7 separate regions of the Homo sapiens genome follow, and all the other regions are linked to region 1. The links come from fine-mapping of genetic effects on gene expression. A gene starts in region 1. Each other region holds a variant in brackets. All regions are shown on one strand. Distances are from middle to middle.

Evidence for each region. PIP is the estimated chance that this variant, and not a neighbour inherited with it, causes the effect.
Region 2: its variant is fine-mapped to the expression of PARP4 in fibroblasts (GTEx, PIP above 0.99).
Region 3: its variant is fine-mapped to the expression of PARP4 in whole blood (TOPMed, PIP above 0.99).
Region 4: its variant is fine-mapped to the expression of PARP4 in whole blood (INTERVAL, PIP above 0.99).
Region 5: its variant is fine-mapped to the expression of PARP4 in whole blood (TOPMed, PIP above 0.99).
Region 6: its variant is fine-mapped to the expression of PARP4 in whole blood (INTERVAL, PIP above 0.99).
Region 7: its variant is fine-mapped to the expression of PARP4 in whole blood (TOPMed, PIP above 0.99).

Annotation. Positions count from the first base shown.
Region 1 is chr13:24,510,100-24,514,503 of GRCh38, reverse strand. It overlaps PARP4 (poly(ADP-ribose) polymerase family member 4), which reads left to right and starts at 1,726. Exons shown (of 34, transcript NM_006437.4): 1 at 1,726-1,798. All of the region lies in intron 1 of LOC105370117 (a long non-coding RNA gene), which reads right to left. RefSeq lists a silencer at 1,569-1,728.
Region 2 is chr13:24,359,702-24,364,105 of GRCh38, reverse strand. No RefSeq gene overlaps it. Among named protein-coding and RNA genes, the nearest start is that of LINC00566, 30 kb to the right of the region's middle. The variant T/C (reference allele first, on the strand shown) is at 2,546.
Region 3 is chr13:24,457,394-24,461,797 of GRCh38, reverse strand. It overlaps PARP4 (poly(ADP-ribose) polymerase family member 4), which reads left to right. Exons shown (of 34, transcript NM_006437.4): 18 at 1,662-1,826; 19 at 2,488-2,534; 20 at 2,676-2,754. Among named protein-coding and RNA genes, the nearest start is that of PARP4, 53 kb to the left of the region's middle. The variant TG/G (reference allele first, on the strand shown) is at 2,038.
Region 4 is chr13:24,418,151-24,422,554 of GRCh38, reverse strand. It overlaps PARP4 (poly(ADP-ribose) polymerase family member 4), which reads left to right. Exons shown (of 34, transcript NM_006437.4): 34 at 1,241-1,624. The coding sequence ends at 1,436. Among named protein-coding and RNA genes, the nearest start is that of LINC00566, 89 kb to the right of the region's middle. RefSeq lists an enhancer at 2,437-2,942. The variant G/A (reference allele first, on the strand shown) is at 2,556.
Region 5 is chr13:24,409,823-24,414,226 of GRCh38, reverse strand. No RefSeq gene overlaps it. Among named protein-coding and RNA genes, the nearest start is that of LINC00566, 81 kb to the right of the region's middle. The variant A/CA (reference allele first, on the strand shown) is at 1,976.
Region 6 is chr13:24,663,988-24,668,391 of GRCh38, reverse strand. No RefSeq gene overlaps it. Among named protein-coding and RNA genes, the nearest start is that of ATP12A, 14 kb to the left of the region's middle. The variant A/C (reference allele first, on the strand shown) is at 1,741.
Region 7 is chr13:24,464,037-24,468,440 of GRCh38, reverse strand. All of the region lies in intron 17 of PARP4 (poly(ADP-ribose) polymerase family member 4), which reads left to right. Among named protein-coding and RNA genes, the nearest start is that of PARP4, 47 kb to the left of the region's middle. The variant T/C (reference allele first, on the strand shown) is at 2,458.

The DNA of each region.
Region 1 (4,404 bases):
GTGGTGCTGAGGTTTGGGGTATGACTGAGCCCCTCACCCGGGGACTGAGCATAGTACCCAATAGTTTTTCAACCCTTGCCCCTCCCCCTCCCTCCCTGTCTAGTTGTCCCCAGTGTCTATTGTTGCCATCTTTATATCCATGAGTACCCAGTGTTTAGCTCCCACTTACAAATTAGAACATGTGGTATTTGGTTTTCTGTTCCTTCATTAATTCACTTACGACAATGGCCTCCAGTTGCAGTCACGTTGCTGTGAAGGACATGATTCCATTCATTCTTTTTATGGCTTCGTAGTATTCCATGGTGCAAATGTACCACATTTTCTTTATCCAGTCCATTGTCGATGAGCACCTAAGTTCATTCCATGTCTTTCCTATTGTGAAGCGTGCTGTGACGAACATACTAGTGCATGTGTCTTTTTGGTAGAATGAGTTCTCTTGTTTTGAATATGTACCCAGTAATGGGATAGCTGGGTTGAATAGCAGTTCTGTTTTCAGCACTTTGAGAAATCTTCAAACTGGTTTCCACAGTGGTTCAACTAATTTACATTCCCACTGACAGTGTATAAGCATTTCCTTTTCAATAAAGCCTTGCCAGCATCTGTTGTTCCTTGACTTTTTAATAATAACCATTCTGACTGGTGTAAGATGGTATCTCATTGCAGTTTTAATTTGCACTTTTCTGATAATTAGTTATGCTGGGCTTTTTTTCATGCTTGTTGACCATTTGCACATCTTCTATTGCATATTCTCTATTTATTGAGACTTTGTTCTCCTGGTTGTTTCTTTCAGTTATTTTTCTATGTTTCCTTTCACTTTTTGTCCATGTTTAAGACAGTTTATTTGAAGTATTTGTCTAATAATTCCTATGTCTGTGCTTCCTCAGCTCAGGGACAATTTCTGTTCATTTCTTTTTTCCTTTGAATTGGCCATTTTTTCGCCTTTTTTTTTGCATGCCTCATAATTTTTTGTTGAAGATTGGACATTTTGAGCATTACGATGTGGTAACTCTAGGAATCAGTCTCTCTCCTCCCCCAGAATCTCTTGTTGTTTCTTAGACAACCCTATAGAGTAGGTTGTAATGATGAAACTTGGTAAATTACCTTGTCCCCAGCCCCCTTGGTAATAAATTGTGGAGTCAGGATTCAACCCCATACCCTTTCCACTGTATTCTCTACTCTATCCTTTCTATTCTCATTTTATTCAGTATCCTAAAAATCTGAATCTTCCCCATTGCTTTATTCCCATTTCAGTGAATCTCAGATCTGTATCTCCAGCCCCCTGCCTCTCTTGAATGGCAGATAAATATATTTCCAACTAGTTACACTGTCACGAATTTCAAACGCAGGAAGGCTTAAAGTAAATTTATTATCTCACTCTCCTGTTTCCACGAACTTTCCCGAAATTTTCTTCTTTCCCGGCCTTGTGAATCCCTTCCATTTCTCAGTTAAAGGACAGCACCATCCACCCACCTCTCTCAAAGCCGAGCTTTGTATTAATCCTCATTGACAAAATCCCTCCTGAAATATGAAACTGAAAGCCCTGAACCCTCCGGCTGATCTTGGAAGAGAAACCCCGCCAGAGGCCGGGGACCCGCTCCCCACCTGGCGGACCCGATTCCGGGCGCGTTCCGGCTATCGTCCCTGCTTGGGACGCTGCGCCCGCCTGGTGCGGGGCGGGGTTCCGGCGCAGTGGCGCCCGCCCAGCCCCGGGGGCAGGGAGAGCCTAGATTACGGAAGTACCGCGAGCAAGGAGCGCGGAATCGGGGAGCGTCCGGAGCTAGCTGGATCCTCTAGGCAGGTGCGTGGGCGCTGCGGGGTGGGGGGCTGCAAAGGTCCCTGTAGTCCTAGCCAGGAAGTGGCCCGCGTACTACTTTCCCGCCAGTGGCTGCACCCTTGCCCTGCGCGGCGTTGGCGCTGTGGGCCTGACGGCGCTGCTAGGCTCGGGAGTGGACTAGCTAGTGCAGCCAGCGCCCTCGGGGAGGGATATTGCGGTCGTTCCGCTCTGCCCCGCGGCGCAGCCCTGGTGACGAGAAACCGGGTGCGGTGGGGGGCGCCCACCGGAGCCGACAGTCACACCAAGTCTCCGCACCCCGTGCGGTGCGGTTCGCAGTAGCACGCGTTGTTTCTTGTTTCCAGTATGCCAAACGGCCTTCTTTCCTAAAGTTAGGTTTCGAATTGTGCAAAAAGTAAGGTGGTTTGGTGAGTAATCAGGAAGTACTATCTGACCTCGTGAGTCATTGGGAACACCGTGATAGAAACAATGTGTTTGTTGAGGTCCAAAGTTGAAAACCTCTAACTCAGTTAAGTAATTCCTGCTAGGAGGGCCGAATGGTTCACCCAGGGATCGAGTTGGTAGATCACAGGTTCTAGAAAACTAAGGCGCTGCTAAATATTCAAGCCCAAGCACTTTCAATTCTGGACTGCTGGATGACAACAATTATATGACAATATCCAAGCATAGTGCTATGATAAAGGGGAAGTTCGCTCTGAGATGTGCGTGTTGCAGACTCATTACATCTGACTTTATCATTTATTAAGTAAACATTAGGTCTTGTTTGTGTGCGTAGAGCTACTGTATATCATGTAGGAGTGAAATAAAAGTAGTACCTTTGTTGTTTAAGGGTTTAATAAACCCATTAGGGAGGTGCATTACTGATGCCATTTGAGTCCAAAATGCAAATAGTGTCAGAAGGCTTTTCTGTAATCCTGGGCTTTAATGGATACGTGAGAGTTTTTAGTAAGCAAGCTTTTATTGAATGCCCACTGTATATCAAAAGTGATCTTAGCGTGTGCTGACTCACACACTTCGGAAGGCGGAGGCTGTAGAATCAAGACTGCCCAGAAAGGGACTCCTCAGGGTTTTCCGAGAGGAGGAAATGCCAGTGGTAAAGACGAAGACCTGTGAAGCAGGAAGCCACTTGATTCCACCTACACCAATGGTTTATGGAGCAGCCAAGAGTTTGTGAGGAGGCGCGCTGAGGGTTTCTTAGGAATCGGGGCTGTTCCCTGCTGTCTTTGGGTGGAAGACACTCTGTGAATGTTATTTGGGGAAGAAGCTGGGAAGGGGGACAGGCTGGAGTGACTGTGCAGATTTGCCTTAGAGAATAACCAGCCCCTAGCCCAGTGTCCGCCACATCTCATATGTACGTAATCAGCGCTGATGAAAACATGAACTAACTCTGTGTTTAGAGAACACTTTGAAACAAGGAAGAACTAGTGGCGCATGTCGGTTAGGCGCTGTTAACCCAGAAGAGGGCTGGCATTTTACAGAGACTAGAGATGAATCTGTGGAAAGAGAGAAGTCAAGACCTGACTTGAGATTTCACGAAACCCAAAGTGCGCCTTTCCATACCTCCCACGCAGCCGCAGGTGCTAAGAACAGACCGCAGATTTATGTTTAAAATGTTTTTACTCTGGGCCGGGCGTGGCAGCTCACACCTGTAACCCCAGCACTCTGGGAGGCTGAGGCAGGAGGATGGCTTGAGCCCAGGAGTTTGTGACCAGCCTTGGCAACATAGTAAGAACCCTGTCTCTACCAAAATTAGCTGGGCATGGTGGTGCAGGCCTGTGGTCCCAGCTACTAAGTAGGCCGGGTGAAAGGATTGCTGGGAGGGAGGTCGAGGTTGCAGTGAGCTGTGACAGTGACCACACCACTGCACTCCAGCTTGGGAGACAGAGCCAGACCCTGTCTCAAATAAAATAAAATGTTTATACTTTGATTTCACAACTATGTGTATGTACTTAATGCCACTGAACTGTACACACAGTTTTAAAAACTGTACCACAATTTTTAAAAGGCTAAAAAATGTTTATACTCCTTGATTCAGTAATTCCATTTCTGGCCATCAACTCTAGGGAAACTATGACAGAGATGTGGCAAAAAAATATATGTACAAGCATTTTAATTAAAGTGTATTTCTAATAGTGAACACTTTTTTTTTTTTTTTTTTGAGACGGAGTCTCGCTCTGTCGCCCAGGCTGGAGTGCAGTGGCGGGATCTCCGCTCACTGCAAGCTCCGCCTCCCGGGTTCACGCCATTCCCCTGCCTCAGCCTCCCAAGTAGCTGGGACTACAGGCACCCGCCACTACGCCCGGCTAATTTTTTGTATTTTTAGTAGAGACGGGGTTTCACCGTTTTAGCCGGGATGGCCTCGATCTCCTGACCTCGTGATCCGCCCGCCTCGGCCTCCCAAAATGCTGGGATTACAGGTGTGAGCCACCGCGCCCGGCCAATAGTGAACACTTTTAAGTAACCAAGTATCTGATGACTTGGGGAAGGATGAAATAAACGCAAAGCTTATGTAACCACTAAAAACACCTTCAAAGAATATTTAGTGACATGGGGAGGATATCACTAAAAGCTAAATAAGCTGTGAAAGTGAAAGTCCTATTTAAAAAGTAAAG
Region 2 (4,404 bases), 150 kb after region 1:
TTAATTGAGCCACCCACGTTAGCGTGACCCATGCTCAGGCCAGCACTCTTGTCTGGACCTGTTATGGTGGTTTTCCCAAGCACATGCGTGGCCACTGTCCTGTGGGTCAAAGGCATGGGTGGGCCAGTGGGAAACATGGATTAAACACATTGACTATTTTACTACAGTCCTTCCCAGAGTGGCCTGGACACTCATGGCCATTGGCAGCTTCTAAGAAAGGACAGGTGTAGCTCTGGGGCTGCAGAGGGCAGAACCTGGCAAAAAGCCAGCTGGCCACTTCTGGGCAGGTGGGCAGGGCAGAGCTGCTGTCTCCCAGCATGGAAGGAGAGTCAGTGTGTCAGGATGGCCGGGCTCTGGGGCACTTCCTGGGCTAGAACCTCAGCTTTCAGGATCCCCAAATGACCCCTCATTTCAAGGCTGCCAGGGGCACGCTGTCTGCCTCTCAGGACAAAACTGAGAAGGAATTCACCAAGTCCTGCCTGTTCAACCACGTGTAAGTGATGAGGGCTTGTGCAGACACACATCTAGTCCCTGGACTGCCACGAAAGAGGCAGAGGAGCATCTGCATCTGCAGGAGCTCTGCCAGTGCTTCCCAGCACGCTTCGAGCTGGCCTGGAAACAGAATCAGGCTCCATGGCTGCTCTCCTGGGATGCGGTGGGCAGGTCTGCCGGGATCCCACAAATAGGCGAGCAGAGAAGCCAGTTCCCCCTGCGCTCTCTCCCCTTGGGAGATGATGGCCACACTGCCTGCAAAACCACCCAAAGTTGCATCTGGGACTCTTTGGAGCAGGAGTGGTTTGCATGAGAAATTTGAGGATGCAAACTCAACTCATCATTATTTCCGAACCAGCACGGAGGAGTTTATTATCTCATCACTCACTAATCATGCCTTATAAATGCAGGGACAGACAAAATCCCACAGAATCAATAAAATCGTAAGTTCCCGGTCTAAACCACAGCACCTAGGATTCTTGAGTAAACCTTTTGGTAATTTACAAAGGCCGTTGAATTTTATAATAAGTGTTTTTCAAACCAAGCTGGATTCTAAACAATAATGAATTTTTAACGTGGCTCTGTGATTACATGGTTGTGGTGAAATATGGGGGTCTTTGACTGCATCTGAAATGAGCCTGGTGTGAATTACTCACAGGCATAGACCAGCATGCCCCCAGGTAAAGCAATCTTCATAAGTTACCCTCCAATCCGGGTGGCCTGGCAGGCAAGGCCTGATGCCAATGTTTGCAACTCAATTTTCAGTGAACAATTTGTAAACAAGTTCTTCCTTTTCTTCGGGGCAGTGGCCATGGCCACCACCTCTGAGTGGAATGGCTGAGCTCCCCCCAGCCTGCCACACGCCAGCTGAGGCTTTGTGTGTGTCCAGGATGGTGGCCACTCACCCACGGAGGTGCTTAGAGGGAAGTGAATGAAAGGAACTGACACTGGGCGCCAGCCACATGTGCCCACGGCCCACGCGGCACCATTTGAGGAGCCAAGAAGAAAGTCCTGCTGGCCTGCTGTGGGCCAGGGCCTGTGCTCCACACAGTGAGAGCAGGTTTCCCTCAGAGACCTTCAGCCCACCCCAGGGGACTATGAGACAAGGCTGGGGAGCAGGGGGAGCCATGGACGCTCTTGAATCCAAAGCCACTGGGCAGACAGGTGAGCTTGGCTCAAATCCATGAGCCCGGGTGTGGGCAGTAGGGCCTGCAAGGCTGGGTGAAGGCTTGGGGGCTCTGGAGGCTGAGGCAACCAGACTGGGACCACAGCCATGGGTGCTGGCACTTGCCTGTCCTTGCCTTGCAACTGTCACTCCACAGGCTGGGGAGCCCGGGCCACTGGACCAGGGACAGAGTGAGGCTCCTCAGTCCCAGAGGCAGCTTCAGGTCAGGGACTGGGTGGGGCGGGGGGGGCAATTGAGGGCGTTCCCACCTGGACTTTCACACCAGGGCCCCTCGCCCTGTCCTTCCCTGCTGCCCCAGCCTGGGAGCTCCAGGACAGGTCCCGCCTCACCCCGTGCCTGGGTCTTGGGGAGAGTTTGCTGAGGGCATCCATGCCCAGGGCCCTTGGGGGCAGGACCAGGATTTGCACCCCCCACCCCAGGTGCCTCAGTCTGAAGGGGCCTCCTGGCAAATGAGCTCACCCATCCCTGGGGCAGAGGGCCCCACTTCCTGGGGTGTAAAGTCACCTCCTCGTTGCCCCGGATGCTTCCATGGTAACAGATTCTTCTGCAGTAGAGTGGTGGGGCACCCCTTCCCTGACCATCTGCCTCCCAGCAAGCTGGTGGAGGGGCTCACTCCCATCCACGTGCCTCCCGTGGGCTCCCGCCTTCCTCTGGGCACCCTGGGTGCACCAAGGTGTTTTAGAAGGAGCTGCACCGGCTTGGAGGCAAGAAGGGCAGGAAGCGGCTGTGGAGGTGCCCAGCAGGAAGGGCTTGTGTCTTAAGGTCCTGGGTATTTAGAAATGTTTTACACAGGCTCTCTTTTTGATTTTATGTAAAGGGAGTTTTCACAGCTACGCACATTTATTCCAATGTTCCACTGGGGAGAGC[T/C]TTCCCAGAACCCCGGGGCTCCCAGCCCCCATGGCTCTTGAGGTGGCTCCAGTATGCAGTGGATGCTTCCAGGGTGCCCCAGGGTCCCTTGGGGGCTCTGTGGAGCTTCTGTTTCTGAGGGTGGAGGCCTGTGTTCATGTGAGGGTGGAGGACTGTGTTCACCTGAGGGTGGAGACCTGTGCTGAGGGTGGAGACCTGTGCTCATCTGAGGGTGGAGGCCTGTGTTCGTCTGAAGGTGGAGACCTGTGTTTGTCTGAGGGTAGAGCCCTGTGTTCATCTGAGGGTGGAGACCTGTGTTTGTCTGAGGGTGGAGACCTGTGTTCATTCTCCTTAAAGGCCTGCCTTCTGGTGCTGCCCTGCTATTTGTGGCTGTTTCCAGAGGCAAGCTGGAAGTGCGGTGCAGCTGGGGCTGTGGAAAGCACTCCCTGCTGTGCCCTGGGGGTCTCTATGGGAACACAGAGACTGGAGCTGGAGGGGCTGGGGGTCCAGGGAAAGTTGAAATAAAGGCTGCCTGCACCAGGGCCTTCCCCAGCACCTGTCACTGAGGCTGCTGAATGAACCGGGCAGGGATGGCCTGCAGGCCTGTGGTCCTGATGACTTAGTTTTCGCCCTGATCCTGCTATCTGGGGGCTGAGGTTCTGCCTGGACGGCTGCCCCAGAGGAGACTGGGCAAACCCCTGGCTCCTGGGGTGGTCTCCTGCAGCCTGTCAGCAAGATCCCCTCTGCCCTCAGCAGGGATGCTGGGTGCCCTAGGGAGGCCTCAGCAGCCTGTTTCATAGCTGAGGACGCTGAGACCTGGAGCACAGGGATGCCCACCTGAGGCCCCACAGTTGGGGAGAAGCAGGCGTGAGGGTGGGGCCCTCTGGGTCAGATGCTGTCTGCCTGGCGGTATGGCTGTTGGAGTAGGGGGAGCTGGTTCGGGGAGGGGTCCGGGAGCCATTCCACTGGGGTAGTTGCAATGCCCAGAGCTAAGCTCTTGGTACTGGCTCTGTTCCATGCCCTGGGCAGGCATCGCCTCCTTCCATCCTCAAACCCTCTCCAAGGTACTCAGTATCTTATCCCTGTTCTGTTGATAGGGAAACTGAGTCAGGGTCGCCATCACTGGGCTGGCCAGATGAGCTTGGGTCCAGGCCCAGGCAGCCCTGCTTTGTGGGTATGAAAGGCCTGGTCCCCACTGCCAGGCCAGCACCCAGCTATGGGTGGTGACCAGGCCCGGGGCCTCAACGTGCACACACACGAGCTGGGTTCCTAGCGGCCGCTTGACTTCACAGGATTGCTGAGAAAATCAAACAGGTTAATGAATGACAGTTGGTTGGACCCAAGTAAGGAGTTGTTAGTAAGTTCCTTTCTGGTATTTAACCAAAGCATTTGTTTGCAGCCCTGGGACTGTTTTCAAGAGGAAAAAGTCCCCGCAAAGCAGCAAGCAGAGTCTCTTTAATGTCCCTTCTTAAATTAAAAAAAAAAACGGTAGAAGTCAGGAGTAAAATTGCCTCTCATGAAGACACCACGGAGAACCGATGTAATTTCCATAATGCAGGACAACAATGAGCGCACAGCCTCATGGGAGAATAAATCCAGCCACTTTAAGGGAAGAAGGGAGGCGCTAAGTATATCACATCAAAAACTAACTTATGAACTTCAAATCTATGCACCAATTCAAAATCTGATTTAACAAACTGCTCTTACTAAAGTCAATTGGTAAGCATTCCATTATAAAAACAAATGAAATCTTCCCCGTCTATGAGATAAATAATTTTCTCCCCACACCTAAGCGGGAGGCATTAGCTTAACGAGTAACCATCTAAATTATGTATTAAACTCAATTACTTTGTATTACTGCTTTCCAGTTAGGGTTCCCT
Region 3 (4,404 bases), 53 kb after region 1:
TGGAAGTGAGAGTTTGCTGCCCTTCCCCCAGCAGCTGGAGGCTTTTGCTTCATGTGGGGAAAGGATCCAGGGAAGTGGCCCCAGCACCTCCCACACACCTGCTCCACGGAGAGGTGCTCCCCTTGGTCTCCTGCCCTGCTCAGCCTTTCCAGTGGGCCCAGTGGAAGGCTGTGGGGATATGGGGAAACGCCTGCAAGAGAATGCAAACTCCCCTTGGGTCAGGAGCTCCCAATTCTTCTAAACCAGTAAGCTTACCCACTCTCAGCCGGGAGGAGTTCACACAGATCCTGTGTCCCATCTGTCCCCTCTTTGGAATTCAGTTCGCTTGGTTGATGAGTTCAAAACAAGTTATGATTTTGTAGATTGCCTGGTGTGTTATAACAGAAGTGACATTTTCTGCATCCACCTATATCCTACCCAGAAACAGAACTGCAATCCCACTCTATTAAGTGGCAGTGTCTCAAATGAACCCCAGGTGTTTATACATACATTTCTTTTAAGGGCTAGCACTATTAAGTATTTAATAATCATCTCTTTATTGTCTGTTTCCATCCTGTAAATGGATGTCTTTGATGTCAAAAGTAATAATTTAACCTTTAAGCCTAAATTAATCCTAATCTAAATATACAAAATTTTCATGATGGGGTGGTCAACTAGAATGGTGAACATAGTTGGGGATGTTGAGAGGATCTCTGCATAGTTATCAGAAAAAAATGTATCTAGCCTCTTTTTTCTGCCCTAGCTAGTCATGGGGTTGCCACCTTATATAGCTATTATCAACATCCCTTTAAAAGAAAGCTAAAGACTTTTTAGTAAAAAAATAACATGATAGGCTGGGTGTGGTAGCTCACACCTGTAATCCCAGCACTTTGGGAGCAGAAGGTGGAAGAGTCACTTGAGGCCTGGAGTTTGAGACCAGCCTGGGCAACCCCATCTGTACAAAAATATTTAAAAATCAGCCAGGCATGGTGGTGCGTGCCTGTAGTCCCATCTACTTAAGAGGATGGCTTAGACCTGGGGTTTCAAGGCTACATTAAGCTGTGACTGCACCACTGCCCTCCAGCCTGGATGACGGAGCAAGATCCTATCTCTAAATAATGAATAAATAAAAATAAAAATAACATGAGAAATTACCATAGGGTAAAATAATTAAGCAAGGGCCAAGCTTAGAAAAAACTGCCCTGGTTCTACAGCTGCTGGCAAAAGTGGTGTTGGGTGCCATGGAGGTCAGGGAGGGTCTTCAAGAAAGGGCTTTGTGGAGGCCATCTGTGCAGCAGAGCCCACCCATGCAGCAGAGCCCACCCATGCAGCAGAGCCCACCCGTGCAGCAGAGCCCACCCGTGCAGCAGAGCCCACGTGTGCAGAGAGCTCACACATGAGAGCCCCCTGGGGCAGAGTCCATGAGTGCCTCTTCCCAGTTCCGCTGCCAAGGGGGCCCCTCTCCATCTGCCTGCCACGGACATCACCCTGTTCCCACCACTGGTGAATGGCTCCAGGATTCTCCGTTAGCCCCACCAATGTGTCTTTTAGGTTTTATTACTGTTTTCTGAGGAAGAATTTGGCAGGTTGTCATTCAAGTTGCTTAAGAAGTACGTGGAGTTAGCTGGCATATAATGGGTATGCTTTCAAGTTGGAAGCTAAGTCATATGTTTCTGTTTCAGGACGTTTTTACTGTAAGTGTTGGAAACTTACCCCCTAAGGCTAAGGTTCTTATAAAAATTACCTACATCACAGAACTCAGCATCCTGGGCACTGTTGGTGTCTTTTTCATGCCCGCCACCGTAGCACCCTGGCAACAGGACAAGGCTTTGAATGAAAACCTTCAGGTTTGTACGCATAAGATTTGAAGAAGCATTTTGGCAGCAGTGGAGGGGGAGTGGTGGAGGGCTGTGGAGGAATTTATGCCTGGGGAGAAAAACATGTAAAATAATCTTTTAGGCATAAAGTTAATTTTACTGACATGCATTTAGATACATTATGTGTATAAAATGAAAAGAATAAAAGTTACAGATATGATCAATAAGCATATTTTTATTC[TG/G]CTTAATCACTCAAAAAATGTTATATCTGTAGTGCAAGTTCATCATGAAGAACTAGATAAGCATAGAGAATACAAATAAGCCAAAATAAGAAAATTAAAACCATCCTTTATCCCATTGCCCAGAGTTAATGGTTAATACTTCGGTATATCCCTCCAAACTTCCTACTTTGTATGTACAGCACATGTATAAAATGTGTGTGTGTGTGTGTGTGCGTGTGTGTGTGTGTATACACACAGACATATGTAGAGTTTAAAATCTCTGTCAAAATGGTGAGTTGTATTTTAGAAGTTCCTGTCATTCCATGAGCAAACTTTCTGTGTTTCACTGCTTGAAAGTGAAACCAGCTGTCTTGCTGACAGTTGTGGCCTTGCCAAGATTACATTCACTTTAGTCTCATTGTGAAACTTAATATATGCTTAGTTATACAAATGTATTTTTCTTTTAACAGGATACAGTAGAGAAGATTTGTATAAAAGAAATAGGAACAAAGCAAAGGTTAGTACCTAAAATATAAAACCTGTCAATTCAATGGATATTGGTTTTCTGGTTTAAATTTCCATTTAGAATTGTTTGAAATAATTTCAGATAGAAATTTAAGATCGTAGACTAAGACAACTTTCTCTTCATTTTTGCTAGCTTCTCTTTGACTATGTCTATTGAGATGCCGTATGTGATTGAATTCATTTTCAGTGATACACATGAACTGAAACAAAAGGTTAGTGCATCTTTGATTTCTTAAGAGCTGTTATTTTAACACTACTTTTATCTTATCAAAGCAATGTATGCACGTGGTTGAAAAGTGAAATAATGCTGACAAAACTTCTAACAAGAAGCACTACTCCTGCCCCTGATTCTCCCCAGACCAGTTTCCAGAGACAGTGAATCATTTGGACTATTTGAGCTGTTTCTTTGATTTTGCCTCCAATTTTTAAATATTAATTTTTAATGCTTTTTCTTGATTTCGCCTGTTTCAGAAATTATCTTTTGACTTCCTGTTTTGGAAGTTGGACGTGTAGCTCTTGCCCCCTCCACCCACCTAACTCACTACTTTTCCTCTCCCCTTCATTCCAAAAGACCTGTTTCACAATAGTCAGTGATTATCATGTAAATGATGTTTACCACTGAGCCAAGAAATGTATAATATTATGATGAGTTTTTTTTGTTTGTTTTGTTTTATTTTTTGAGACAGGGTCTTGCTCTGTCACCCAGACTAGAGTACAGTGGTGCAGTCATGGCTCACTTCATCCTTGACCTCCTTGGATCAAACAACCCTCCTGCTTCAGGCTCCTGAGTAGCTAGGGCTACAGGCCTGTGCCAGCACACCTGGCTAATTAAAAAAAAAAAAAACTTGGCTGAGTGCGGTGGCTCATGCCTGTAATCCCAGCACTTTGGGAGGCTGAGGTGGGTGGATCACGAGGTCAGGAGATCGAGACCATCCTGGCTAACATGGTGAAACCTCGTCTCCACTAAAAATACAAAAAATTAGCCGGGTGTGGTGGTGGGCACCTGTGGTCCCAGCTACTCGGGAGGCTGAGGCAGGAGAATGGCGTGAACCCAGGAGGCGGAGCTTGCAGTGAGCTGAGATTGCGCCACTGCACTCCAGCCTGGGCGTCAGAGCGAGACTCCATCTCAAAAAAAAAAAAAAAAAATTGTAGAGACAGGGTCTCACCATGTTGCCCAGGCTTTTCTCAAACTCTTGGGTTCAAGGGATCCTTTTTGCTCTGGCTTCCCGAAGTGCTAGAATGACAGGTGTGAGCTACCACACCCAGCCTATTTTCCTTTTTAGAATTCTGCAGGAACTTCAGACCTTCTCTTTATCTCTGGTATTCTGAAATTTCATAACAGTATGATTTTCATTCATTGTATGTAACTGGTGGTCTTTAGTTCTGAGAAATTTTATTGTATTAAAAAAAAGTTCCTCTCTTGTGCCTTTCTGCAGTGCCTTTCTTTTTTTCTTTTTTCTTTTTTTTTTTTTTTTTTTTTTTTTTGAGACAGAGTCTTACTCTGTTTCCCAGGTTGGAGTGCAGTGGTGGGATCATGGCCCACTGCAAACTCCACCTCCTGGGTTCAAACGATTCTCATGCCTCAGCCTCCTGAGTAGCTGGAACTACAGGTGCCTGCCACCACGCCCAGCTAAATTTTCTATTTTTAGTAGAGACGGGGTTTCCCATGTTGGCCAGGCTGGTCTCAAACTCCTGACCTCAGGTGATCTGCCTGCCTTGGCCTCCCAAAGTGTTGGGATTACAGGCGTGAGCCACTACATAGTGGTGGAGGAGTCCTCAGTAGCAACAAGAGAGTGCCAGGCCCGTTGCATGGACACTTTTCACGCCCCTGCTTGTATCTCATCTGCCAACATATCATTGGC
Region 4 (4,404 bases), 92 kb after region 1:
GGATGTACATAACATTGATGCAAGAGCACATTATATGGGGGTGTAGGCACAAGATTTTCTTGCTAGCGGAATGTGAACCAAAAAGTGTAGAGGCCAATCAGTAAAAATATTCAAAGCCAGTTTTGTTGTTTTCAGCAGTTAGTAACTATCAGTAGATGAATATTTACTAGGAAACATTGGTCTTTTAACCACTTTGGGCATGCTTCTTATTTAGTATGTTCATCATGATTTAGTATCATGACATTCAGCGAACATTTATTGAGTGCCTACTGTGCACTAGGGACTAGTAAGCATGTTAAGTTTGTAAGCTTTGTTGATTTCCACCACAAACCCATAGGACCTCAGGTTATTCTCATAATTGAGGAAACTGAGATTCCCAGTGTTGAATGAAAGCCACACAGTATCACATGGCCAATATCATGTGATTGCAGAGTCAGGACTCAAACCCAGCTCTTAACCACCACGCTATACTGACGGCCCTTTCCCAGTTCACAGGGAAAATTCAGGAACAGGGAGAGAATTTTCAAAATATTAAGTTTCCCCATAGAATTTTCTGAAGAACTTTGGTATATGTTGCCCCTTGTTCACTAACAAGTTCTAGCAGATGACAGAACAAATGAGGAAGTAGCTAATTAATATTAATGAACAACCTCAGAATTTTTCTGAGTGTTGAATAGACTTGAATATTCAACAGTCTCAAATATTTGACACCATTTAGTGGACACAGACTTGACTCGATATGCTTATTCTACCAAGTTGTTCCTGGTTTACGTGACACAACTGAATGTATGCCAGTTTCATGGGGGACTCTCAGATATTCTGAAGGTACCTAATCAAGTCAGTACAGTGGGAAGGAGAGAGAAACAGAAGCCTCATTTGTGAAATAGTACTTGAGTTTGTGCGTGAAGAATGGATAGGATTTAGACTGAGAAGCGTGGAAAGGGGACAACCATAAACAACTGTAGAGCGGCTGGAACGTGAGCTGTGCTGCAGGCAGCAGGGATGCCTGGAGGCACGTGGAAGCCAGGAGGTGGCGGGCACAGGGCACTTGACAATGCAGTGCATAAGCTCAAGGTCAGACGGGCAGAAGAACTTCCGTAAGATGCCAAGGAAAACTGCTTTTATTAAATATCTTAATTTTTGGCAGAATCATTTTGTCTGATATAATGTGATGGGTTTAGTACCACATTACATTTCACATGTTATATTCTGAAATCTGAAACTTTTTTTTTTAATCTAGGAATATTCCCTGGGCTTTTGAGGCAATAAAGCAAGCAAGTGAATGGGTAAGAAGAACTGAAGGACAGTACCCATCTATCTGCCCACGGCTTGAACTGGGGAACGACTGGGACTCTGCCACCAAGCAGTTGCTGGGACTCCAGCCCATAAGCACTGTGTCCCCTCTTCATAGAGTCCTCCATTACAGTCAAGGCTAAGTCAAATGAAACTGAATTTTAAACTTTTTGCATGCTTCTATGTAGAAAATAATCAAATGATAATAGATACTTATAATGAAACTTCATTAAGGTTTCATTCAGTGTAGCAATTACTGTCTTTAAAAATTAAGTGGAAGAAGAATTACTTTAATCAACTAACAAGCAATAATAAAATGAAACTTAAAATATTTCAGTTTTCTGTGTCTCATTTTTTTTGTTGATTTTTTTATGTATTTTTTTTTTTTTTTTTTTTTTTTGAGACAAAGTTTTGCTCTTGTTGCCCAGACTGGAGTGCAATGACGTGATCTCAGCTCACTGCAACCTCTGCCTCCTTGGTGCAAGCAATTCTCCTGCCTCAGCCTCCCGAGTAACTAGGATTATAGGCACCTGCCACCATGCCCTGCTAATTTTTTATATTTTTAGTAGAGATGGGATTTCACCAGGTTGCCCAGGCTGGTCTCGAACTCCTGACCTCAGGTGTTCCACCCGCCTCGGCCTCCCAAATTGCTGGGATTACAGGTGTGAGCCACTGTGCCCGGCCTGTTGTTGTTGTTTTAGAGATGGTCTCAATCTGTCTCCCAGGCTGGAGTGTGGTGGTGCGATCATACCTCACTGCAGCCTCAAACTCCTGGGCTCAAGGGATAGTCCTGCCTCAGCCTCCCAATTAATTGAGACTACAGGCATGTGCCACCACACCCAGCTAATTTTGGGGTGTACTTTTTGTAGAGATGGGGTCTTGCTCTGCTGCCTAGGCTTGTCTTGAATTTCTGACCTCAAGCGATCCTCCCACCTCAGCCTCTGAATGTGTTGGGATTACAGGCATAAGCCTCTGCACCCAGCCGGTGTTTCAGAGTTTTAAGGTGATGAGAGATGCTTCTGGATAGTCCTGGGAGCCTGTGTCCTTCTCACATTCAGGAGTCCAGTGGAAAGCTGGCTCAGCTGGACTGAGCAATCTGAGAAGAAACATGATCTTTTGTAGGGGATCTGTCAGGGTGGTGGGAGAAATTATAAAAATTAAGTTGTAGGAAACAGACACAAAACTTCTTGGAAGGCCAGGAGGTTTGCATAGCTTCAGTAAAAGATTTGGCTGAAGGCAGCTGAATTCTCTTAAAAGCTCAG[G/A]GCGTAGATACATAGGAATGTAGAGGAGTTTATCTAAATGGCTTGTTTACTCATGTGGTCCTAAGATCAACCTTTGATAATCTGCAGGCACGTGACTGCCGTCTACTTGGGAGGTCAGCAATGTTAATTACCCTCTAGTGGTGTTTACTTAAGACCTTTGTCCTTAAATCTGTACTGAATAAATGCCTGGAGCCCCAGCCTGTCAGGGCCACAGCTGCTGACTCTTTACAGCACCCTCCTCAGTGTCTGGGAGCTGCCGGTCCCCTAGCCTGCTGTTTCATGGGATACCTGTGTCTGAGTGCATTTCTTCATCCGTCACACGGCCAGGGTATGGAGGTTGGACCCAGCAAGTTACTGACACAGTTTGAAAATTACACAGGATTGGTCGTTGAGTTGGATATTTTAGTCAACATTTATTAAGCCCGTGCCTCAGCAGTAGTTGACTTTTGTCTAAAGGGAAAGAAAGAAATTCTAGTTTTCCCAAACGTCCAAGGCTCCATCCAAAACATGCTGAATCAAGATTTCCAGAAGAAAATCCTGGCAACTTGGATATTTAATAGGTGTTCCAGGTTATCAAGCATATTTGAACACAGTGGCCCAGGTGCTGTATCTCAAAGTGTGAGTCTGTGGACTGGCATTGTCTCCCTCACTCAGGAGCTCATCAAGACAGGCAGAATCTCTGGTCCTGTTCGAGGCTATTGAATCAGAAGCTGCATTTTATTTAGCAAGGCCCCCAGGCGACTCCTGTGCACATTTATAGTTGAAGGGCTAGTGGACTGTGGTGACAGGAACATATTTGGTGCGTGCAGGGCCTTGTTCTAAGAACCCATGATGCTTGGGCACAGTGGAGCATCTCATCAGTCCAATTGTTGGGCGAAAAGCTGAGGCAACACTTGCTAGTCTGACATAATATAAAGAGTCTTGGAACATGTCCTGGGTCCAGAGTTTGAAACCTCTTGTGGCCTATGGAACACCAAGCTCTGTACTTAAGAGTGGAAGGCTGCCCTGCCGCACTACAACCTAAGCCCAGGGCATAAAACCCCTCGTGGCTTGGATGGAATCCAGGGCTCAGGGCATAAAACCCTTCGTGGCCTCTGGAATGTGTCCAGACTTGCTGGCTCCTTGCTTCTTGCTCTCCCAGGATCATAAATTGATTGTATCTTCAAAACAAATAACCCCATTAAAAATGGGCAAAAGATATAAACGTACACATCTCAAAAGAAGACATACCAGTGGCCAACAAACATATGAAAACATAGAACTACCATTTGACATTGCAATCCCATTACTGGGTATACATCCAAAGGAAAGTAAGTTCTACCAAAAGGACACATGCACTGTATGCTCTTCTCAGCACCATTGACAATAGGAAAGACATAGAATCAACCTAGGTGCCCATCAATGGTGGACTGGATAAAGAAAATGTGGTACATATACACCATGGAATACTACACACTCATAAAAAAATTAAAATCACGGCTGGGCGCAGTGGCTCACGCCTATAATCCCAGCACTTTGGGAGGCGGAGGCGGGTGGGTCACCTGAGGTCAGGAGTTCAAGAGCAGCCTGGCCAACATAGTGAAACTCCATCTCTACTAAAAATACAAAAATTACCCAGGCATGGTGGCAAGCACTTGTAATCCCAGCTACTTGGGAGGCTGAGGCAGGAGAATCGCTTGAACCTGGGAGGTGGAGTTTGCACTGAGCCAAGATCATGCCATTGCACTCCAGCCTGGGCAACAAGAGTGAAACTCCATCTCAAAAAAAAGAAAAAAGAAAAGAAATTATGTCCTTTGCAGTATCATGGATGCAGCTGGAAGTCATTATCCTGAGAAAATTAATGCAGAAA
Region 5 (4,404 bases), 100 kb after region 1:
ATCACAGAGCAGAAAAGCTTTCTTGAAATACATTTATGACCAATAACAAAACTGAAATCAGAATACATAAAGAACTCCTACAATCAGGAGAAAAAAGATGAATAATCCAGGAGAAAAATGGTTAAGAAAATTAAAAAGTTACTTTACATAAAGGATATCCAAATACTTAATAATCTTAAGAAAACTTCCTCAATCTTATTCGTAATTATAGAAATGCAAATGATCACCACCATAAGATGCCATCACACAAACACCCAAAGGCTAAAAATAAAAATACTCAGAACTGCAAATATTGGGGAAGATATGGAATGCTTGAAGTGTACAATACCAGTGGAGTAAAAATTGGTACAACTGTTTTAGAAAACAGGTGACATTATCAAGTAAAGTTCAAGATTCATTACCCTAAGACAGAACAATTTTAGTCTGAGGTATACACTCAACAAAAATGTGGCCACAGGTGCAACAAGAAACGTGTATTTTTAAAAGCAGTATTATTGGGCTGCGCCGGGTGGCTCATGCCTGTAATCCCAGCACTATGGGAGGCAGAGGCAGGCGCATCACTTGAGGTCAGGAGTTCGAGACCAGCCTGGACTACATGGCAAAACCTCATCTCTACTAAAAATACAAAATTAGCTGGGTGTGGTGGTGGACGCCTGTAATCCCAGCTACTCAGGAGGCTCAGGCATGAGAATTGCTTGAACCCAGGAGGCAGAGGTTGCAATGAACTGAGATGGTGCCACTGCACTCCAGCCTGGGTGACAAAGGGACACTTTATCTCAAAAAAAAAAAAAAAGCAGCATTATTTCTCACAGTAAAAATTGGAAACAACTCAAATGTAATAGAAAAAAAGAGATTCCATTTTCAGTCACAATTTGTGTAGGAATGAATTTTTGAAAAGATGTGCAAAGACATGATAAAAAAGTATAAAATATTATTAAAGAATGAACAAGATGGTTCACATGTACAACTCAATATCGCAAAGTTGTCAGTTCTCTCAAGTTAATCTATAAATTCAATGTAGTTCCAATAAAAATCCTACAAGTGTTTTATTATGGCACTTCACAAAATGATTTTAAAATTGAATGTCATAATAAAGTTCCAAGAAGAGCAAGACAATTCTGCCTTTATCAAACTATATTATAAAGCTACAATAATTACAAAAGTGTGGTAGAGAGAACTTAGAAACAGTTTTGAATATTTATAGGAACTTGGTATATTACTGAGAGGGACTACAAATTAATGGAGAACAAATTAGCATGCAATTGATGGTGTTAGGACAATTGGCTATCCATATGAAAAAAAATACTTCCCCCCCAACTTCCAGTTAGATTAAAGACCCAAATACTAAAAATGGAACTTGAATATTTTTTAAGAAATGTGGAATATCTTTACTACATCAGTATAAGGGTGAATTTCATAAACATGACAGAAAAGCATGAAATACATACACACACATAGATGAACAAATTTTACTACATTCAAAATTACAAACTTCTCTCCAGACATGAAGGCTCATGCCTGTAATCCCAGCACTTTGGGAAGCCGAGGTTGGTGGATCACTTGAGTACTTGAGTCCAGGAGTTCGAGACCAGTCTGGGAAACACAGTGAGACCCTGTCTCTATAAAAAATACAAAAATTAGCCAGGCATGGTGACGCTCGCCTGTAGTCCCACTTACTCAGAGGGGCTGAGATGGGAGGATCGCTTGAGCCCTGGGAGGTTCAGGCTGCAATGAGCCGAGATCGTGCCACTGCACTCCAGCCTGAGTGACAGAGCGAGATCATGTCTCAAAACAAAACAAAAATTTACAAACTTTTGTACAACAAAATAAATCACAATCAAATTTAAAAGGCAACATGTGGGGAGAATATAATTGCAATACTAAGAAAAATTGACATTCAGATTCTTTAAAGAACTCCTATAAATCAATATAAAATATTTTTACCATCATGATAACCTGCAGGCAGCAACCAACC[A/CA]GAAGACAGCAAGACTAATATGAATGAACACATAAAAAAGAGGCTGCTCTGGTACATACCAGCTGAATATTAGCCCTCTAAACAACCTTTAACAAAATCATCAAAATATTATGTGAACACAGAATAATGTAAACCCCCTCTCAGCAAAAAAGAAAAAAATCAAATTTGAAATGAATGTTTTCCTTCAAGCAAGGAATTAGCATTAGTTAATAGAAAACTGATGCTAACTTCTTGAATAATAACATTTTAGGTTGGGCAATGTGAAATGGCCATTTTTAAAGCAAAAGATGGTTAAAAACTGGCAATTTCAAAGGATTCAACCTCTATATTCTTAATTTAACTATGGTATTGTAAATTGCCAGTTTATACACAATATTCCAACCTGTAGAGCTAAACACAGAACCTGTATATTAACTAATATACAGCTAAACACAGAACCTGTGTATTAACTAATGGACTTGAAACTAGTCAATAAGACTAAAACTTGATTTTACTGAATTATGTAAGTCAGTTTACAGTGCTATGTTTTCCTGGAATTTGATATAAAAATTGATTTAGAGCCCACTAAAAATGTAATTATTTGTGTTTGTCAAAATTTGTGAAATATGCTTAGATGATTATTTAAAGCCTAAACCTGAATGAGAGAAAACCTAATTGAACTTAAATTGGTTGGATTTACAATGGCTTTTTCCCCCATTTTAACCCCACCAATGTCAACTTCTTTGTATCATTACACTACAAAAATTCCAGTATAATTTTTGAAATAGCATCTCTGTTGGCTCACTTAATCTAAAAGGTTCTCACAAAGTTTAAGAACAACCTTAAATATTACTGGAACAAAAACAGACATCTAGACCAATGGAACAGAATAGAAAGCCCAGAATAAGTCCATGCATTTATACTCAGCTGAGTACAAAGGTGCCAAGAATCCAAGATGGGGAAAGGACAGTCTCTTCAATAAACAGTACTGGGGAAACTGAATATCCACTTGCGGAAGAATGAAATTGCAACCTATCTCACCCAATATACAAAAGTCTACTCAAAGTAAACGCTTAACTGTGAAAGCTGAAATAGGAAAACTACTAGAAGAAAACATAGGTGAAAATCTTCTTGACATTGGTCTGGGCCAAGGTATTTTTGGATATGACTGAAAAGCATAGGCAACAAAAGAAAAAGCAGACAAATGATACTTTATCAAACTAAAACACTTTTGCACAGCAAAGGAAACATTTATAGAGTGAGGAGACAACCTACAGAATGGGAGAAAATATCTACAAAGCATACATTCAACAATAGGTTAATAGATTATTTTTAAAAAGGAAATCAAACAACACAATAGCAAGAGAACAAGTTACTTCTCTGGAAAATGGGCCAAGAACCTGAAAAGATATTTCCCAACAGAAGACATACAAATGGCCAAGAGGTATATGAGAAAATGCTAAACTTCGTTAATCATCAGGGAAAAGCAAATTAAAACCACAAAGAGATATCCTCACACCTGTTAGGATGGTCACTAACAAAAAGACAAGAGAAGAGTTGGTGAGGATGAAGAGAAAAGGGATCCCCCTTGTACACTGTTGGTGTGAATGTAAATTAGTAGTTATTGTGGAAAACAGCACTGAGATTCCTCAAAAAACCAAAAATAGAACTACCATATGATTTGGAGAGTCCACTTCTGGGTATATATCCAAAGGAAATGAAATCTGCACTCCCGTGTTCACTGCAGCATTATTCATAATACCCAAGCTATGGAGTCAATCTAAATGTCATCAGTGGATGAATGGATAAAGAATATGTGCTATCTATAAATAAAGGCATACAATTCAGCCTTAGAGGATATCCTGTCACGTGATAATATGGATGAACCTGGAGAATATTATGCTAAGTGAAATAAGCCAGGCATAGAAAGAAAAATACTGCATGACTCACTTATTTGTGGAATTTTAAAAAATCATATTCATAGAAGCAGAGAGTAGAATGGTGGTTACCGGGGGCTGGGGGGACTGTGGAGATGTTGGTTTTTACTTTATTATTTTTTTAGATGGAGTTTTGTTCTTGTTGCTCAGGCTGGAGTGCAATGGTGCGATCTCGGCTCACTGCAACCTCTGCCTCCCAGGTTCAAGCGATTCCTCTGCCTCAGCCTCCTGAGTAGCTGGGATAACAGGTGCATGCCACCACACCCGGCTAATTTTTTGTATTTTTAGTAGAGATAGGACCTCACCATGCTGGCCAGGCTGGTCTCAAACTACTGACCTCAGGTGATCCACCTGCCTCTGCCTCCCAAAGTGCTGGGATTACAGGTGTGAGCCACTGCGCTCAGGCTGAGATGTTGGTTAAAGGATGCAAAATTTCAGTTAGACAGGAAGAATAAGTTCAGGAAATTTATTGTACAACATAGTGACCATAGTTAATGTATACTTGAAAATTGC
Region 6 (4,404 bases), 150 kb before region 1:
TCTTTGGGAAGATTTATTTTACGTGTCAATGTGGCTAATTCACGGTACCCAGTTGTCCAAACACCAATCTGGAAGTCTCTGTGAAGGTGTTTTTCAGATGTGATTAGCAGTTGGATCAGTAGATGTGAGTAAAGCAGAGTCTGCTCCATAATGGGGGTGGGCTTTACCCAATGAGTTAAAGAAGTTAAAACATTTGGGTCCCCCAAGGAGGAGGGAATTCTGCCTTCAGACTGCCCTTGGCCTTTAGCTACATCAACTGTGCCTGGGCCTCCAGCCTCTCCTGTAGACTGGATTTGCCAGTCTCACAATCATGTGAGCCAATTCCTTCAAATCTTTCTCTCTTTTTTCTCTCTCTCTCTCGACATCCTATTTGTTTTGTCTCTGGAGAACCCTAATACAATCTCCTTAGGCTCATTAGCCCAACAAACCACATAGAGAACTTCTAGTGTATAGAGAATAAATCAAATCAAATGGCAGTTTTCAGCCATTTGTGGGCATCCAGTAGGAGACCTGTAGGATCCATTTCTTTTTAGAGTGGGGTTTACCTGAAGAAGCTAGTGATGAACGGCCAGATGTTATCAGGAGACTGCTCCATTTTCATAAACCAGATTTCCTTGTGGTTTGCTCTGAAGCCGGCTTCCTCACGTTGGAGTGACTGGGAGCAGTGGACCAGCAGACAGTGACAGTGAGTTCCAGGCGAGAGAAGCACGGAGTAGGGGCTCTGCTTTCGACTCACTTGAGAGGCTGCAAGGAAGTGATTTGAATTCTGAGTTTTCCCACAAATTCCATGAGGTCAAGTTACTTCCGCTAAATTTCATATTGGTTATGAACTCTGTTTTCAAATGCAGCATGTAAACTCCTTCTGTAAAATAAAAGGAAGTAGGATATTCAGCAATTCTTTACTGGATGTGATCAGCAAAGACAAGACATCTGCAGCTGATGGGATCACCTAGATTTGGAGGTTGGGGAACAGGGAAGATCTAAACACCCTTGTTTTCTTGGCCTCTTTGGTCTCAGCCACATGGAATCAGATTATTTGACTAGGACTATTAATGCATAAGAAGGGAGAAACACAAAAAGGTGATTTCTTGAGGTTTCAGCTTACCTTGTCAATGATTCTGCAACTGTGTGCCATGAATTCTTAGTCCTGCAACATGGTCATAAAGACAGAAACATTCCACAAAGTTGTATATGATGGTCTTCTCCTCCTACTTGGAGAGTTCCCTGCTATTGTTAGCCCTTCTAGGGCCCCCTACTCTCCCTCAAAAGAGCATTTTCTCAAACAGAAGTGCCCACTCTAGAAGACCACTTTGTTTTTGATTTGGAAAATCAAGCTTGGCTTTGGTAAGTTCATGTTAAATCTGAAAGAAGATGTTGATTAGTCCAGCTATAATTAATAACAGTAAGTATATCATTAGCATGTACAGAATCTAACCAATAAATTATGGAAACGTTTTCTGTCTTTTCAAGCCTGAAGGTTCTTTCATAGATGGCCTGCTTTGGGAACTCGGTGGAGACCCAGTATTACACACACGCCAGGAAGCCCGGGAGGACCTTCATCTCACCCTTGCCACGTGCCCCTCAGGCAGGTATGCAGTTGGCCCTTGAACAACATCAGTTTGAACTGCCTGGGTCCATTTATACAGAATTTCTTTCCAATAAATATATTGGAAAATTTTTTTGAGATTTGTGACAATTAGAAAAAGCTCACTAATGAATTGCATAGCCTAGAAATATCAA[A/C]AAAATTAAGAAAAAGTTAGATATGTCATTGATGCATAAAATATATGTAGATACTAGTTTATTTTATCTTTTACTCCCATACAATATATAGAAATCTATAATAAAAAGTTAAAATTTATCAAGACTTATAACAGAATATACGGGACCATTTGCAGTCAGGAGAATGTAAACAAACATAAAGATGCAGTTAAATCATAACTGCATAAAATCAGCTGCAGTGCTTACTGTAATGCTGTAATCATTTCATTGCTAGCGGTGAGCTCAAGTGTGAGCTCAAGTGTGTATCTGCTTAAAACGCTGTGTGGGGCCAGTCGCGGTGGCTCATGCCTGTAATCCCAGCACTTTGGGAGGCAGAGGTGGGCAGATCACTAGGTCAGGAGATCGAGACCATCCTGGCTAACACGGTGAAACCCCGTCTCTACTAAAAATACAAAAAATTAGCCGGGCGTAGTGGCGGGCGCCTGTAGTCCCAGCTGCTGGGGAGGCTGAGGCAGGAGAATGGCGTGAACCTGGGAGGCGGAGCTTGCAGTGAACTGAGATCAGCCACTGCACTCCAGCCTGGGCGACAGAGCGAGACTCCATCTCAAAAAAAAAAAACGCTGTGTGACGCTCATCGTCTCCACATGAGCAGTTCATCTCTCTAGTAAATTGCAAATTACCATTGGTAAAAGGTGATCTCTCAGGATTCCTGTGTATTTTTCATCGTGTTGAGTGCAATACCTTGGTTAACACCATAGGACCCATACAAAGTGTGACTAGTGATGCTGGAAGTACTCCTGGAAAGCAGAGAAAAATAATGACATTACAAGAAACAGTTGAATTGCTTGCTATGTACCATAGACTGAGGTCTGCAGCTGCAGTTGCCATCATTTCAGACAACTCATCTTGTAAACAGACCATGCAAATTCACAATATTGATAAATACAGTATAGTACTATAAATGTATTTTCTCTTCCTTATAATTTTTCTTAATAACATTTTCTTTTCTCTAGCTTGCTATATTGTAAGAGAATATAGCAGATAATACGTATAACATACACAATATGTGTGAATGGACTGTTTATGTTATCAGTAAGGCTTCCAGTCAACCGTAGGCTATTAGCAGTTAAGTTTTAGAAGAGTCAAAAGTTATACATAGGTTTTTAACTGTGCAGGGGATCGGCACCCCGATCCCTGTGTTCTTCAAGGGTCCACTGTAATTGCAGTGCCTGCAAAGGCCTTGATACTTTGGAGGCTCTGAAGGAGTGGTAAGAATGGCTTTTATTCTCAAGTAGCTTCTGATCTAGCTGAAGAGATGCTAGTTAGGAGGCAGCGTATAGTGAGTGCGGGACATGCTGTGGGGGTTTACACAGGAGGAAACCAGGACAGAACATCACTGCAGTCATGCCTTACTTAAGGGTGGGGATACAGTCTGAGAAATGCATCGTTGGGCAATTTTGTCATCCTGCGAATACCATAGCATGTACTCACACAAACCCAGGTGCTATAGCCTACTACATACCAGGCTGTATTGTATAGCCTGTTGCTCCTAGGCTACAAACCTGTACCACATGTTACTGTACTAAATATTGTAGGTAATCACTACACAATGATAAGTATTTCTGTATCTAAACATATCTAAAGGTAGAAAAGGTAGAGTAAAAATAGAGGGTAAAAGATAAAAAGTGGCATGCCTGCATAGCACACTTACTATGAATGCACACTTGCAAGACTGGAAGTTGCTTTGGGTGAGTCAGTGAGTAAGTGGTGGGTGGATGTGAAGGCCTAGGACATTACTATACACTCCTGTAGACTCAATAAAGCTGTACACTTCGGCTACACTAAATTGATACAAAATATTTTTCTTTCTTCAATAAATTAACCTCAGCTATATTTTTTAAGAGATAAAGTCTCCCTGTGTTGCCTGGGCTGGTCTTGAATTCCTCATCTCAGGCAATCCCCCAGCCTCAGCCTCCCCAGTAGCTGGAATTGCAGTCATAAGCCCACCATGCCAGGCTCTTTTTAAAACTTTTTGATTCTTTTGCAATAACACTTAAAACACACACTGTACAGCAGTACAAAAATATTTTCTTTCTTTATATCCATAATCTATAAGATTTTTCTTATTTTAAAATTTTATTTATTTTGCTTTTTAAATGACTGGCAGCAAAGTAGGTTTATTCACAATAGCATCACCACAAACATACGAGTGATTTTTTTTTTTTTTTTTGAGATGGAGTCTCGCTCTGTCGCCCAGGCTGGAGTGCAGTGGCGCAATCTCTGCTCACTGCAAGCTTCACCTCCCAGGTTCACGCCATTCTCCTGCCTTAGCCTCCTGAGTAGCTGGGACTACAGGTGCCCGCCACCGCGCCTGGCTAATTTTTTGTATTTTTAGTAGAGACGGGGTTTCACCATGTTAGCCAGGATGGTCTCGATCTCCTGACCTTGTGATCGCCTGCCTTGGCCTCCCAAAGTGCTGGGATTACAGGCGTGAGCCACCGCGCCCGACACGAGCGATGTGTTTTAATGCTGTGGTGTTATGAGAGCGACCTCACTAGATGATAGGAATTTTTCAGCTCCATTAAAATCTCATGGGACCACCGTCATTGACTGAAACATTATGTGGCACATGACTGTATTTGGGAAAAGATGCTTTCTGATGGTTAAGGGGCTGCATCTTTTAAG
Region 7 (4,404 bases), 46 kb after region 1:
AAGAGCGAAACTCCATCTCAAAAAAAAAAAAAAAAAAAAAGGAGTGTGATATATTTACAATTTTCCTGAAGTAAGCTCACCTAGCAGATGGTCCAATCATAAAGCAGGGAGGCATTTCTGCCGGGTCCTCCTTGGGCCAGCTCCTGTGCTTTTAGGTGATTAGCTTTAGCAGGGACGTGACGTGGACAGTGTGGAAGAGGGAATAGCTGGCAGGTCCACTAGACTACTTTCCTTAAATACCAGGTGTTTTCACGAGGCCTCTGGCAGGTGCTAGATTGTGTGTAGTCAGCGTCTAACTCTAGTGCAGGTATTTTAGTTATTCTTGCAGATGGGGCCATATGTTTGAGTATCGCCTCTGAGGGTGACACATGGCCATGGTGTTTTGAAAATTTAATGTTTGCTGGGGCTAGGGGCACATTCAAGATTAATATAGACAAAGGGGTAAATTATTGCTCTTGACATCTAAGATATCCACCTGCAGGATGGGAATAAGTAATGAAGAGGTGATTATTGAACAGTTAAGAATGCTGGCTCTATGTATGGCCAAACTGTATGTATAGAAGCCTGGGGTTCATTTGAGAGGCTGCCACTTAATATTATCAGGTTATCCTCCTACGTGTGTTGGTAAATGTTTCCTCCTTAATACTTACATATTTCCCTAGGAATAGGGTCCACAAGAAAACAGCCTTCACAGAAGGTATTACCTATGGGTAAAGTCTGATCAGAACTATTGCTAACCCAAGCCTTCAGGTCTCCCAGAATGTATTGACATCTTGTGACTATAATGTTCTCATATCATAATATATGGTATTCATGCATTGTTATATAAATACCATATATACCAGGTGCAGTGGCTCATACCTGTAATCCCAGCACTTTTGGAGGCCAAGGCGGGAGGATCACTTGAGCCCAGGAGTTCGAGGCTGCAGTGAGCTCTGATAATACCACTACACACCAACCTGGGCAACAGAGCAAGATTCTGTCTCTAAACAAACAAACAAGTCTTAGCTTAGGAATCCCTCCATCTAAGCTTTTCCTGCCTTCCCCCGGAAAGACCCATGGCTTCATTTTCCCATGGCAACCTGGACATATTTGTCTTATAACTCTTAATATACTGTTTGTAAAGATAGAGGTCTAGCTCGTAATCCCCAATATTTAAGTGTGGAAGTAACAGAAAAGGATAGTTAGTGGTACAATAAAGAGAAAATTGTGGTGCCGAAACCAAGGATGAAGACAGTGCCCAGCCTAGGACGACTTATGTCCTCCTCATTGCCAGATTAAATGGCAGTGTTTCCAAGACTTCAATTTATGTGACCATTTGATGGTTTTCTCCTTTTCAAAACATCTAGACTGACTGACTTGTCACTATAACCCTATACTACTTAGATAGCGTACTGTTGAATTTTGCTGCTTTATCCAATCTGTGAGTTTCTGCACTTTGTATTGTTTAGGTCATTTTTATTTAATACAATTATTGATCTGGTCAGATTTATATCTACCCTCTTGCTAGTTGTTTTCTATTTGTACCATTTGTTCTTTGTTCCTTTCCCTCGCTTTTCCTGCTTTCTCTTGTATTGTTTTTTAAATGATTCCATTGTATCTCCATTATTGGCTTATTAATTTTATCTTTTTTTTTTTTTTTTTGAGACAGAGTCTCACTGTTGCCCAGGCTGGAGTGCAGTGGCGTGATTTTGGCTCACTGCAACCTAACCTCTGCCTCCCAGTTTGAGCGATTCTCCTGCCCCAGCCTCCCAAGTAGCTAGGACTAAAGGCACATACCACCACACCCAGCTAATTTTTGTATTTTTAGTAGAGATGGGGTTTCACCATGTTGGCCAGGCTGGTCTCAAACCGCTAACCTCAAGTGATTCTCCTGCCTCTGCCTCCCAAAGTGCTGAGATTACAGACGTGAGCCACTGCGCCCAGCCAGTTCTCTCTCTCTTAAAAAGTTTTGATTGTTGGCCAGGTGTGGTAGCTCATACCTGTAATCCTAACACTTTGGGAGGCTGAGATAGATGGATCACCTGAGCCCAGGAGTTCAAGACCCCTTGGGCAACATGGTGAAACCCCAGATCTACAAAAAATACAAAAATTAGCTGGGTGTGGTGATGCATGCCTGTAGTCCCAGCTACTTGAGGGGCTGAGTTGGGAGGATCACTTGAGCCTGAGAGGTGGAGGCTGCAATGAGCCATAATGGCGCCACTGCACAGCCTGGGCAACAAAGCGAGACCCTGTCTCAAAAAATAAAAAAATTAAGTTTTGATTGTTGCTCTAAAGCCACATGTTAAATATGTGTTAAATATGGTAGCCACTAATTACATGTGTATATTTACATTTAAATATAAAATAAAATGTTTTATGTGGCCAGTGGCTATCTTATTACTTAGTGCATATGTAGAGCATTTTTATCATCATAGAAAGTTACATTGGTCAGCACTGCTTTAGGGTTTACTACTA[T/C]ATACATCTGTAACTTACCACATACAGCCTACAATATTATACTACTTCATATGTAAGAACCTTACAACCAGAATACATTACATTACAACCAGTATACGTTCGTTTCTTTTTTCCCATATCCTTTGTGATATTGTTGTCGTGTGTTTTATTTCTTCATATATTATAAATTCTACAATGTGTTGTTATATATTCAACTATCTTTTTTTTTTTTAAAGTTCTGGGATACATGTGCAAGACATGCAGGTTTGTTACATAGGCAAATGTGTGCCATGGTGGTTTGCTGCACCTATCAACCCATCACCCAGATATTAAGCCCCACATGCATTAGCTATTTATCCTGATGCTCTCCCTCTCCCTGCCTCCGCTACAGGCCCCAGTGTATGTTGTTTCCCTCCCTGTGTCCATGTGTTCTCATTGTTCAGCTCCCACGTGTAAGTAAGAACATCCTGTGTTCAGTTTTCTGTTCCTGTGTTAGTTTGTGAGGATAATGGCTTCCAGCTTCATTCATGTCCCTGCAAAGGACATGGTCTGCATGGTATTCCATGGTACATATGTACCACATTTTCTTTATCCAGTCTATCATTGATGGGCATTTGGATTGATTCCATGTCTTTGCTATTGTGAATAGTGCTGCAACGAACATACACATGCATGTATCTTTATAATGGAATGATTTATATTCCTTTGGGTATATACCCAGTAATGGGATTGGTGGGTCAAATGGTATTTCTGGTTCTAGGTCTTTGAGGAAGACCCACACTGTCTTCCACAATGGTTGAACTAATTTACACTCCCACCAACAGAGTAAAAGCATTCCTATTTCTCCACAGCCTTGCCAGAATCTGTTGTTTCTTGATTTTTTAACTATCGCCATTCTGACTGGCATGAGATGGTGTCTCATCGTGGTTTTGATTTGCATTTCTCTAATGATCGGTGATGTTTAGCTTTTTTTCATATTTTTTTGCCACATAAATGTCTTCTTTTGAGAAGTGTCTGTTCATGTCCTTTGCCCACTTTTTAATGGGGTTTTTTTTTCTTGTAAATTTGTTTAAGTTCCTTGTAGATTCTGGATATTAGACCTTCATCAGATGGATAGATTGCAAAAATTTTCTCTCATTCTCTAGGTTGTCTGGTCGCTCTGCTGATAGTTTCTTTTGCTGTGCAGAAGCTCTTTAGTTTAATTAGATCCCATTTGTCAATTTTTGCTTTTGCTGCAATTTTTGATGTTTTCCTCATAAAATCTTTGACTGTGCCTATGTCCTGAATGGTATTGCCTAGATTTTCTTCTAGAGTTTTTATAGTTTTTGGTTTTATATTTAAGTCTTTAGTCCGTATCGAGTTATTTTTTGTGTAAGTTTAAGGAAGGGGTCCAGTTTTAATTTTCTGCATATGGCTAGCCAGTTTTCCCAGCACCATTCATTAAATAGGGAATCTTTTCCCCATTGCTTGTTTTTGTCAGGTTTGTTGAAGATCAGACAGTTGTAGATGTGTGGTGTTACTTCTGAGATCTCTATTCTGTTCCATTGGTCTATGTGTCTATTTTTGTACCAGTACCATGCTGTTTTGATTACTGTAGCCTTGTAGTATAGTGTGAAGTCTGGTAGTGTGATGCCTCCAGCTTTGTTCTTTTTGCTTAGGATTGTCTTGGCTCTACAGGCTCTTTTTTGGTTCCATATGAATTTTAACCTAGTTTTTTCTAATTCTGTGAAGAATGTCAATGGTAGTTTAATAGGAGTAGCATTGAAGCTATACATTACTTTGGGCAGTATGGGCATTTTCACGATATTGATTCTTCCTATCCATGAGCATGGAATGTTTTTCCATTTGTTCGTGTCCTCTCTGATTTCCTTGAGCAGTGGTTTATAGTTCTCCTTGAAGAGGTCCTTCACTTCCCTTGCTAGCTGTATTCCTATGTATTTTATTCTCTTTGTAGCAATTGTGAATGGG